3 separate regions of the Homo sapiens genome follow, and regions 1 and 2 are each linked to region 3. Evidence: fine-mapped expression QTL. A gene starts in region 3. Each other region holds a variant in brackets. All regions are shown on one strand. Distances are from middle to middle. Region 1 has its middle 40 kb from the start of CYTIP. Region 2 overlaps CYTIP (cytohesin 1 interacting protein). Region 3 holds the start of ERMN (ermin).

The links.
Region 1: its variant is fine-mapped to the expression of ERMN in whole blood (TOPMed, PIP above 0.99).
Region 2: its variant is fine-mapped to the expression of ERMN in whole blood (TOPMed, PIP 0.95).

Annotation. Positions count from the first base shown.
Region 1 is chr2:157,402,445-157,405,300 of GRCh38, reverse strand. No RefSeq gene overlaps it. Among named protein-coding and RNA genes, the nearest start is that of CYTIP, 40 kb to the left of the region's middle. RefSeq lists silencers at 593-692, 723-772. The variant T/C (reference allele first, on the strand shown) is at 1,545.
Region 2 is chr2:157,413,439-157,415,938 of GRCh38, reverse strand. It overlaps CYTIP (cytohesin 1 interacting protein), which reads left to right. Exons shown (of 8, transcript NM_004288.5): 8 at 1-1,320. The coding sequence ends at 262. Among named protein-coding and RNA genes, the nearest start is that of CYTIP, 29 kb to the left of the region's middle. RefSeq lists an enhancer at 2,188-2,237. The variant G/A (reference allele first, on the strand shown) is at 939.
Region 3 is chr2:157,324,112-157,326,967 of GRCh38, reverse strand. ERMN (ermin) reads left to right here and starts at 1,144. Exons shown (of 3, transcript NM_020711.3): 1 at 1,144-1,566; 2 at 2,206-2,298. The coding sequence starts at 1,326. RefSeq lists an enhancer at 711-1,260.

The sequences.
Region 1 (2,856 bases), 78 kb before region 3:
TTCACAATAGCAAAGACTTGGAACAAACCCAAATGTCCAGCAATGATAGACTGGATTAAGAAAATGTGGCACATATACACCATGGAATACTATGCAGCCTTAAAAAATGATGAGTTCATGTCCTTTGTAGGGACATGGATGAAGCTGGAAACCATCATTCTCAGCAAACTATTGCAAGGACAAAAAACCAAACACCTCATGTTCTCACTCATAGGTGGGAATTGAACAATGAGAACACATGGACACAGGAAGGGGAACATCACACACTGGGGCCTGTTGTGGGGTGGGGGGAGGGGGGAGGGATAGCATTAGGAGATATACCTAATGTTAAATGACAAGTTAATGGGTGCAGCACACCAACATGGCACATGTATACATATGTAACAAACCTGCATGTTGTGCACATGTACCCTAAAACTTAAAGTATAATAATAAAAAAAAGAAATGAGCTTGCTAGACAATGCTATTTATTATTATAAAAATTGCTTAATTATAATAACTCTACCATTTTTGGTTATCAATAAATGATGTAAGTAAATTTTAAAAGTATAAACTAAAAATAGGAAAAACATAGAAAATGATAATGAGTAGGGATCTGATCCCAACCAGCTGTATTTGAAGACATGGTTGTTATTTCCTCACCACAATATGTGACATTTTATTCTGAGTTTCAAAACTACAGACAGAACCACTGATTAAAAACAGGATGTGGGTGAATAGTCATGCATGAGACTACCTGGATGAGACATGAGCTAATCTAGTGGTTCTAAAACAGCAGCCTCCCGTCAAATGCTGGCTTGCTGCTTCAGAATCACCTGAGCAACTCGTAAAGGTGCAGATTCTCAGGCATTGGGCCCCAGAGATTCTGTTGAATAGGCCTGGGTGGGTTTCAGAAGTCTTTGTATAAACAAGTTCCCTAAAAGATTCTTGCATTAATAGCTAGGAACCATGTTTTGAGAAACACTACCCTGGAAGTTTATAATTTCTCTGTTAGCTCTGGTGTTGGTGAACTGTAATCGGGATGGAGTATAAGCAAAATGATAAAAAATGTCAAAAATATTAAAAGTGTCTTAAGAAGAAAGCTACCTCCTAATAACCTCCTCTTAGATTTTCCAACATGAATGTATGAAATTTCCATGCTTTTCAACATCATTTTCTGCATGTAACCATGACTCCTAGTCTGCTGAAGTGGAAGCCATCTAGAAGGAGTTCCCTCAATTCCCTTGCCTCCAATGATTTCTATCTCCTTTTTCTCTTTGCTGGTATTTCTAACTGAAATGAATGCATGTCTTTCCCACTTCTTACATCTTTACTTTCCCACAGACTTCTTTCTTCAGGCCAGCAAATACTTTTTATTTTTACCTATTCTGAGCTTAACCAGTAAAACCTGCATTATCAGCATGAACAGAAGATCATATCTCTTCAATATGTAAATTAATTTCCTAAGCCCCTGATTGCTAGATTCAGCATTGGAAACTAACCTTTATTGATCATGTTTCCATTTTCTGTCCTAAATCTTTTGAAAATGCTGGGATCTTACTTGG[T/C]GGTGCTTCCACACTTCTGAAAAGAGAAATGGATAATTGAAAAAGCCACAAGTCGGGGAGGTTACAAGACAGCCGAATAGGAACAGCTCCAGTCTACAGCTTCCAGTGTGAGCGATGCAGAAGATGGGTGATTTCTGCATTTCCAACTGAGGTACCGGGTTCATTTCACTGGGGCTTGTTGGATAGTGGGTGCAGCCCACGGAGTGTGAGCTGAAGCAGGGCGAGGCATCACCTCACCCGGGAAGTGCAAGGGGTCAGGGAATTCCCTTTCCTAGCCAAGGGAAGCCGTGACAGATGGCACCTGGAAAATCGGGTCACTTCCACCCTAATACTGCACTTTTTCAATGGTCTTAGCAAATGGCACACCAGGAGATTAGATCCTGTGCCTGGCTCACTGCTAGCACAGCAGTCTGAGATTGAACTGCAAGGCGGCAGTGAGGGTGGGGGAGAGGCACCTGCCATTGCTGAGGCTTGAGTAGGTAAACAAAGTGGCAGGGAAGCTCGAACTGGGAGGAGCCCTCTGCAGTTCAAGTAGGCTTGCCTGCGTCTGTAGACTCCACCTCTGGGGGCAGGGCATAGCTGAACAAAAGGCAGCAGAAACTTCTGCAGACTTAAACATCCCTGTCTGACAGCTTTGAAGAGCGTAGTGCTTCTCCCAGTATGGAGTTCGAGATCTAAGAACGGACAGACTGCCTCCTCAAGTGGGTCCCAGACCTCCGAGTAGCCTAACTGGGTGGCAACGCCCAGTAGGGGTGGATGGACACCTCATATGGCCGGGTGCCCCTCCGAGACGAAGCTTCCAGAGGAAGGATCAGGCAGAAACATTTGCCGTTCCACAATATTTGTGGTTCTGCAGCCTCTGCTGGTGATACCCAGGCAAACAGGGTCTGGAGTGGACCTCCAGCAAACTCCAACACACCTGCAGCTGAGGGTCCTGACTGTCGGAAGGAAAACTAACAAACAGAAAGGACAACCACACCAAAACCCCATCTGTACATCACCATCATCAAAAACCAAAGGTAGATAAAACCACAAGGATGGGGAGAATTCAGAGCACAAAAGCTGAAAATTCTAAAAATGAGAGCACCTCTTCTCCTCCAAAGGAACACAGCACCTCACCAGCAACGGAACAAAGCCGGATGGAGAATGACTTTGACGAGTTGAGAGAAGACTTCAGAAGATCAGTAATAACAAACTTCTCTGAGTTAAAGGAGGATGTTCGAACCCTTTGTAAAGAAGCTAAAAACCTTGAAAAAAGATTGGATGAATGGCGAACTAGAATAAACAGCATGGAGAAGACCATAAATGACCT
Region 2 (2,500 bases), 89 kb before region 3:
CTTCAGTCGGCAGACGAGTACAGATGATGAGTGCTTTATCCCCAAGGAGGGGGATGATTTTCTGAGGAGGTCATCTTCAAGGAGGAACCGGAGCATCAGTAACACCAGCAGCGGATCCATGTCTCCCTTGTGGGAGGGCAACTTATCAAGCATGTTTGGGACCCTGCCCCGGAAGAGCAGAAAGGGAAGTGTCCGAAAGCAACTCTTGAAATTTATCCCTGGCCTTCATCGTGCTGTGGAAGAGGAAGAAAGTCGCTTTTGACGGATTGTGGTGTCCTTTCAAATTAGCTTATTTCACAAATATCTCTAGACTCACCCAGATCCCAGCTTGGTGGGAAAGTGCAGAAGAATTGCAAAACTGACATCCCATTTCACAGCAATAGTGACCTTTATTTAAATTGTTGTGTTATAGTTTATGCTTCTTAAATCATTTTTCAACCTAAACAGCCAATTTCTAAGCAGACAGGAAAACTAAATAATAAGTTAATTAATATAACAAAGATGCAGGTTCCTGCTCATTCCAGTAATGTCTTTGAAAGCAAAACTAATATTTATTTTCTAGATTATCCCTGTGAATAATTGAGAACTTTTTGGAGTCAAGTATGAATAAAGGTGTGGCAGAATATAATAATCTGGACTATTTTCTATAGGATAATTGCTGGGTTATAAAATCTTAGGTTTGCTTATGCCCAGTAGCTCCTGCGGAGGCTTAATAATAGGCAATTTTGAATTTGTTCAAACCTGTAATGGCTTGTAAACAAAGATGACCATCAGCTGTTTCTCACATCTATAGTGACAATAAAGCGGGAAGTATAAGATTTAATAGGAGGGGTTAAGGTTCATGAGAACCATGGAAAGATGTGGTCTGAGATGGGTGCTGCAAAGATCATAATAAAGTCATTTTTATAGACAGTCTAAACAAAATGGGTGGGGATGTC[G/A]TGTTTTTTGCCCAATTCAGCTTTTGTTCTGCCTGAACATTAATGGCAAGTCTAGAACTCTCCGAATCCTACAGCTTTGTAATTTTTTTTCTACAAATGTCTAACATCCAAAACTGAGGGTTGGGAAAAGGACTTCCCTCCTGTAGTTTTTTTCATATTACTTCTCACTTTATATCTTATATTCTAAATAGCTATCACCTCAGCAGTCTTTTGCCTATTGGTTATGTTAGTATCACATTACTTCTAGCCTTTCAATTACTCCATGTTTTATTTAATATCCATTGAAGTCTATGAATTCTCTGTTCTGGTGGCACAGCTATTCATAACCTATATTCTAGAGTAGACAATCTGGACTATGTAATAAATAGTCTGCTGATTTTAAGTTCTCTCTCTCTCTCTCTCTCTCTCTCTCTCTCTCTGTGCGTGTGTGTGTGTGTTTGGGAGAAATAGAAACACTTCAATTTAAGTAGAGCTGCTAAATTTAATTAAACTTCTGCTTAAGAAATGAGTTATTTTGAGATAAAAGAGGGTAGGGTAAGGAAGCATCTAAGATGAGAAAGAAATGATAAAGTATGAAAAGATTTCTAGTTGGGACTTGCCTTCTATTAACTCTTTGAACTGAGAAACATCCAGTGGCCTGTGCATGACAGTCACTCATATGAAAGGCAGGGTGTCACACCTTTCACAGAAATGATAGCAATACTGTCTACCATTTACTGAGTACCTAGTTGGCTAAAGACACTTTACGTATGATCCTCACAATTACTATATAGTAGGTGTTAGGCATACAGATAACAAGTCAGGAATTTGGAAATGTTCTCAGGGTCACAAGGCTAGTCAGTGGCAGGGCTAAAATTGGAAGCCAGTTCTTCCTTGCTCTAGTCTATTCCAGATATCTTTTACTCTTTTGGTTCTGTTTAGTGATCATCACAGTACTTTTTATTCCACCCAACAGGAATACTTAAAATGTACAATTATAGATGCTGCACAGATAAGAGCATTTCTTTGGGTAAATAGGAAAACAAACATTTCTCTGTTCCTCATATACAAGTTTCAGACATAGGTTCTTTAATAACTACATGATTAGCAGTGCATTTATTTTCAACAAGAGCTTGCAAACCAGTTATGATTCAACTGGTATTGCTTATTTCTCATCATAGTCTAGAATCATCCTGTTAAAGGTCTACTTATATGAATTCAGCATTTCTTGTTATCCTATTTCACAAAGTCCAGGGGAAGGAAACACCACATTTATTTGAGGAAAGATGACTTTGAAATCTTCTACAAGGTGAAAAAATGCTTTGAGAACTACACAGAATGACATAGGTCATACGGGAAAGCAGACCATAGATCATTTGCTTTTCTTGTGATTTTAATACAGAAGTGTAACACTGCTGTATGACAGTAGACCTCAAATGCAAAAAAGGGGCAGGGAAGGGACGGAGCAAGCATCACTTTAGTTTGCGGTAAGAATTAGAGTCGAGGTATGTTCTGAGAATAAAGAAAAAAGTACTGGTTAACCAAAGTACAGGAAGGAAGGGTATGTCATGTTCTATATTTCA
Region 3 (2,856 bases):
GGCCCCTCGCCAGATGAAACTTAGTTTGCAGTTGGTGAAACAGACATTACAGAGATAATTGTGCAGTTGCTTATTTAGTTACAACCATGAAGAATACTCTGAAGGGCAAAGACAATGTGTAACAGAGTCCTGTCCTAATCCTGGCGGTTAGAGATAGTGTAGTTAAGGAGATGATATTTAAGCTTAAAAACAGAACTTAGGGAAGCTGGTCAGCCCAGGGCTTGGGCTTGAGGAAGAGAAGGGCATTTCACATAGAAGGAGCTGTGTGGGCAAAGGCTCTGGAACCATTTTGTACTATGAGAAATCCAAAAAAGAAAAAGATTTAAAAAGGAAGGGGTGGTCAGTAGCAGTCATTTAACATAATCACCTGTTTCTCCCAAGGGCAGATTGCATTGGTCCTCTACATTTTACCAGCATTGTGTAATATCAGTATGGAATAGAAAGGATTGTAATTCTGATTGGGGGAGGAGAAACCTTCATGGCGATAATTTTATTAGGGTTTTAAAGGATCGGCTGGGCTTCAGCAGACATAAACTAGAGGATAAGAAGCTATAGACTAAGTAAATTACTCTGAAATTATAAAACTTTTGGTATTAGCAAGTTGGTAGAATTTGTTTATTTCATAGGTCCCTTCTCCAGCCTGCTGGAAGCACACCATCAAATCTGCAGCCAGAACCATTTACAGTAAAGTTGTCCTGTTTATAGGTTTTTTCCATAAGCTGTTTTATTTTTTAATAAATAAGAAACAATGCCATTGTCCTTTACAAAATAGCTGAGGTTTTACTTGAACAAAATCTGTTTGGAAATGTTAAGCTGGTTACACAGAACTAATATGCCTCAAGGTGGTCATTCTCTCTGGATTAAAGCTGTGGGACAATTGTGGCTCCTGTTACAGGGAAAATTACAATGGGCCATTATGAAAAGGGACAAAAATCTCTGTTCCCAGAGGGGGACTGACAAGCTGAAAGTCCCTCTCTACATGCCAACACAAAAGCCTGATTGCTTCAGATTGTTTGTTTATGTAAATCAAAAGGATGCCTTTAACTCTGCCAGGGAACTGGCAAGCAACAAAGAAGGTGGTGATTGGCTGGATTCTTGCTCATGGCTCCTGGCAGATCTGACAAATCCTCTTGCTTTTGCTCTAATCTCTGTCTGGATACTTTTAGGAAAAGAACCTTGTTATTATGTACTAAAGTGAATAATTTGTGCTCTTAGAGTAGGAGTTGGAACTATAGGACTTGAAGGCAAGAGCAGGTATCTTATCAAGGATCTACTCACTCAGTTTCCCTAAAGCTCTCTCTCCAGATCGGATTCAACCGCACATCATGACAGATGTTCCGGCTACATTTACCCAGGCTGAGTGTAATGGGGATAAACCACCTGAAAACGGTCAACAAACAATCACTAAAATCAGTGAGGAATTGACTGATGTGGACAGCCCCCTGCCACACTACAGGGTAGAACCCAGTCTGGAAGGTGCACTCACCAAAGGAAGTCAGGAGGAAAGAAGAAAATTACAAGGGAACATGCTGCTCAACTCATCCATGGAGGACAAAATGCTAAAAGGTAAAGTGTTTCCCTTCTCCTTAATTTTCTTGTTTTGACTTATAAATTTACCCTGGATTTTTTTGATAAACTATTATCGAAATGAGCTGGACACCCCAAAAATGTAGCCCTTTATTCTACTACGCATAGTATAAGGACTAAACCTCTGCCTCTGGTGAAATCCAGGCTGGTCTATTTGACAGCTGTGACCCCAGACAACTTTCTGTCTCCCGAAGCCTGAGTTTTTTTCACTAGAAGAAGGCGGAATAATAATAATAACTACAAGTCTAGGGTAAGTATTGGCTAAATGTTAACTACTGTATTTATTATGATTATGGACAGCCCCATATTATTTGAACAAAGAGAATTCAAAATGTTAAAATTTCCTTCTAAATATAACTGAAGTTCTCTGAATTTATGGTTCTATATCTTATATATATATCTTATATAAATATTAAAGGAGAGATTACAATCAATAAAGTGATCATTAAGTAAATAAATTGAATTGATAAAGAATGAATCCAAAGAGTGAAATAGTAAATTTTAATGATCAGATTTAAAATTAAAGACTTCTACCTAGAGTTTAAATTGATAACTTATTAACTGTTGAACAATAAATATTTTAAATGTTAAAATACTGATTTTATATTTTTTTCCTAGAAAACCCAGAAGAGAAACTCTTTATTGTTCATAAGGCTATCACAGATCTTTCTCTCCAAGAAACTAGTGCTGATGAAATGACATTCAGAGAAGGTAACAAGAACTACAGTTTTGTACACAGAAATTGTTTGACTGAGTATGGATGACAGTCTTTCCATGAAATGTTGCATGAGCGTGGGGTTGACAAAGCAATCCAGGCAATGACTTCAAATTTTCAAAGCTGCTGTAGGCAGATAAGAGAGTCTTAACTTATCTGTGGGTTCCACCTTATAAAGCATTCCAGACTGTTCAAGGCTGAGGCTGCATGGAATGGCATAGCTGATTGGCATACCAACGTGATGTCTATCTCTTAAGTTAGTCCACTGAGTCAACCCTACTTTTTGATTTGGTGTGTCCAAATCTGTGTGTGCACCTTGTGAAAGGTAAATGTTTCAAAAACGGGTCTTTCCTAAAAGTCTACAATTAACATACAGCTTTTTTTTTTTTTTTTGAGACGGAGTGTCACTCTTGTTGCCCAGGCTGGAGTGCAATGGTGCAATCTCGGCAGACTGCAACCTCTGTCTCCAGGGTTCAAGCGATTCTCCTGCCTCAGCTTCCTGAGTAACTGGGATTACAGGCACCTGACACCACGCCCAGCTATTTTGTGTGTGT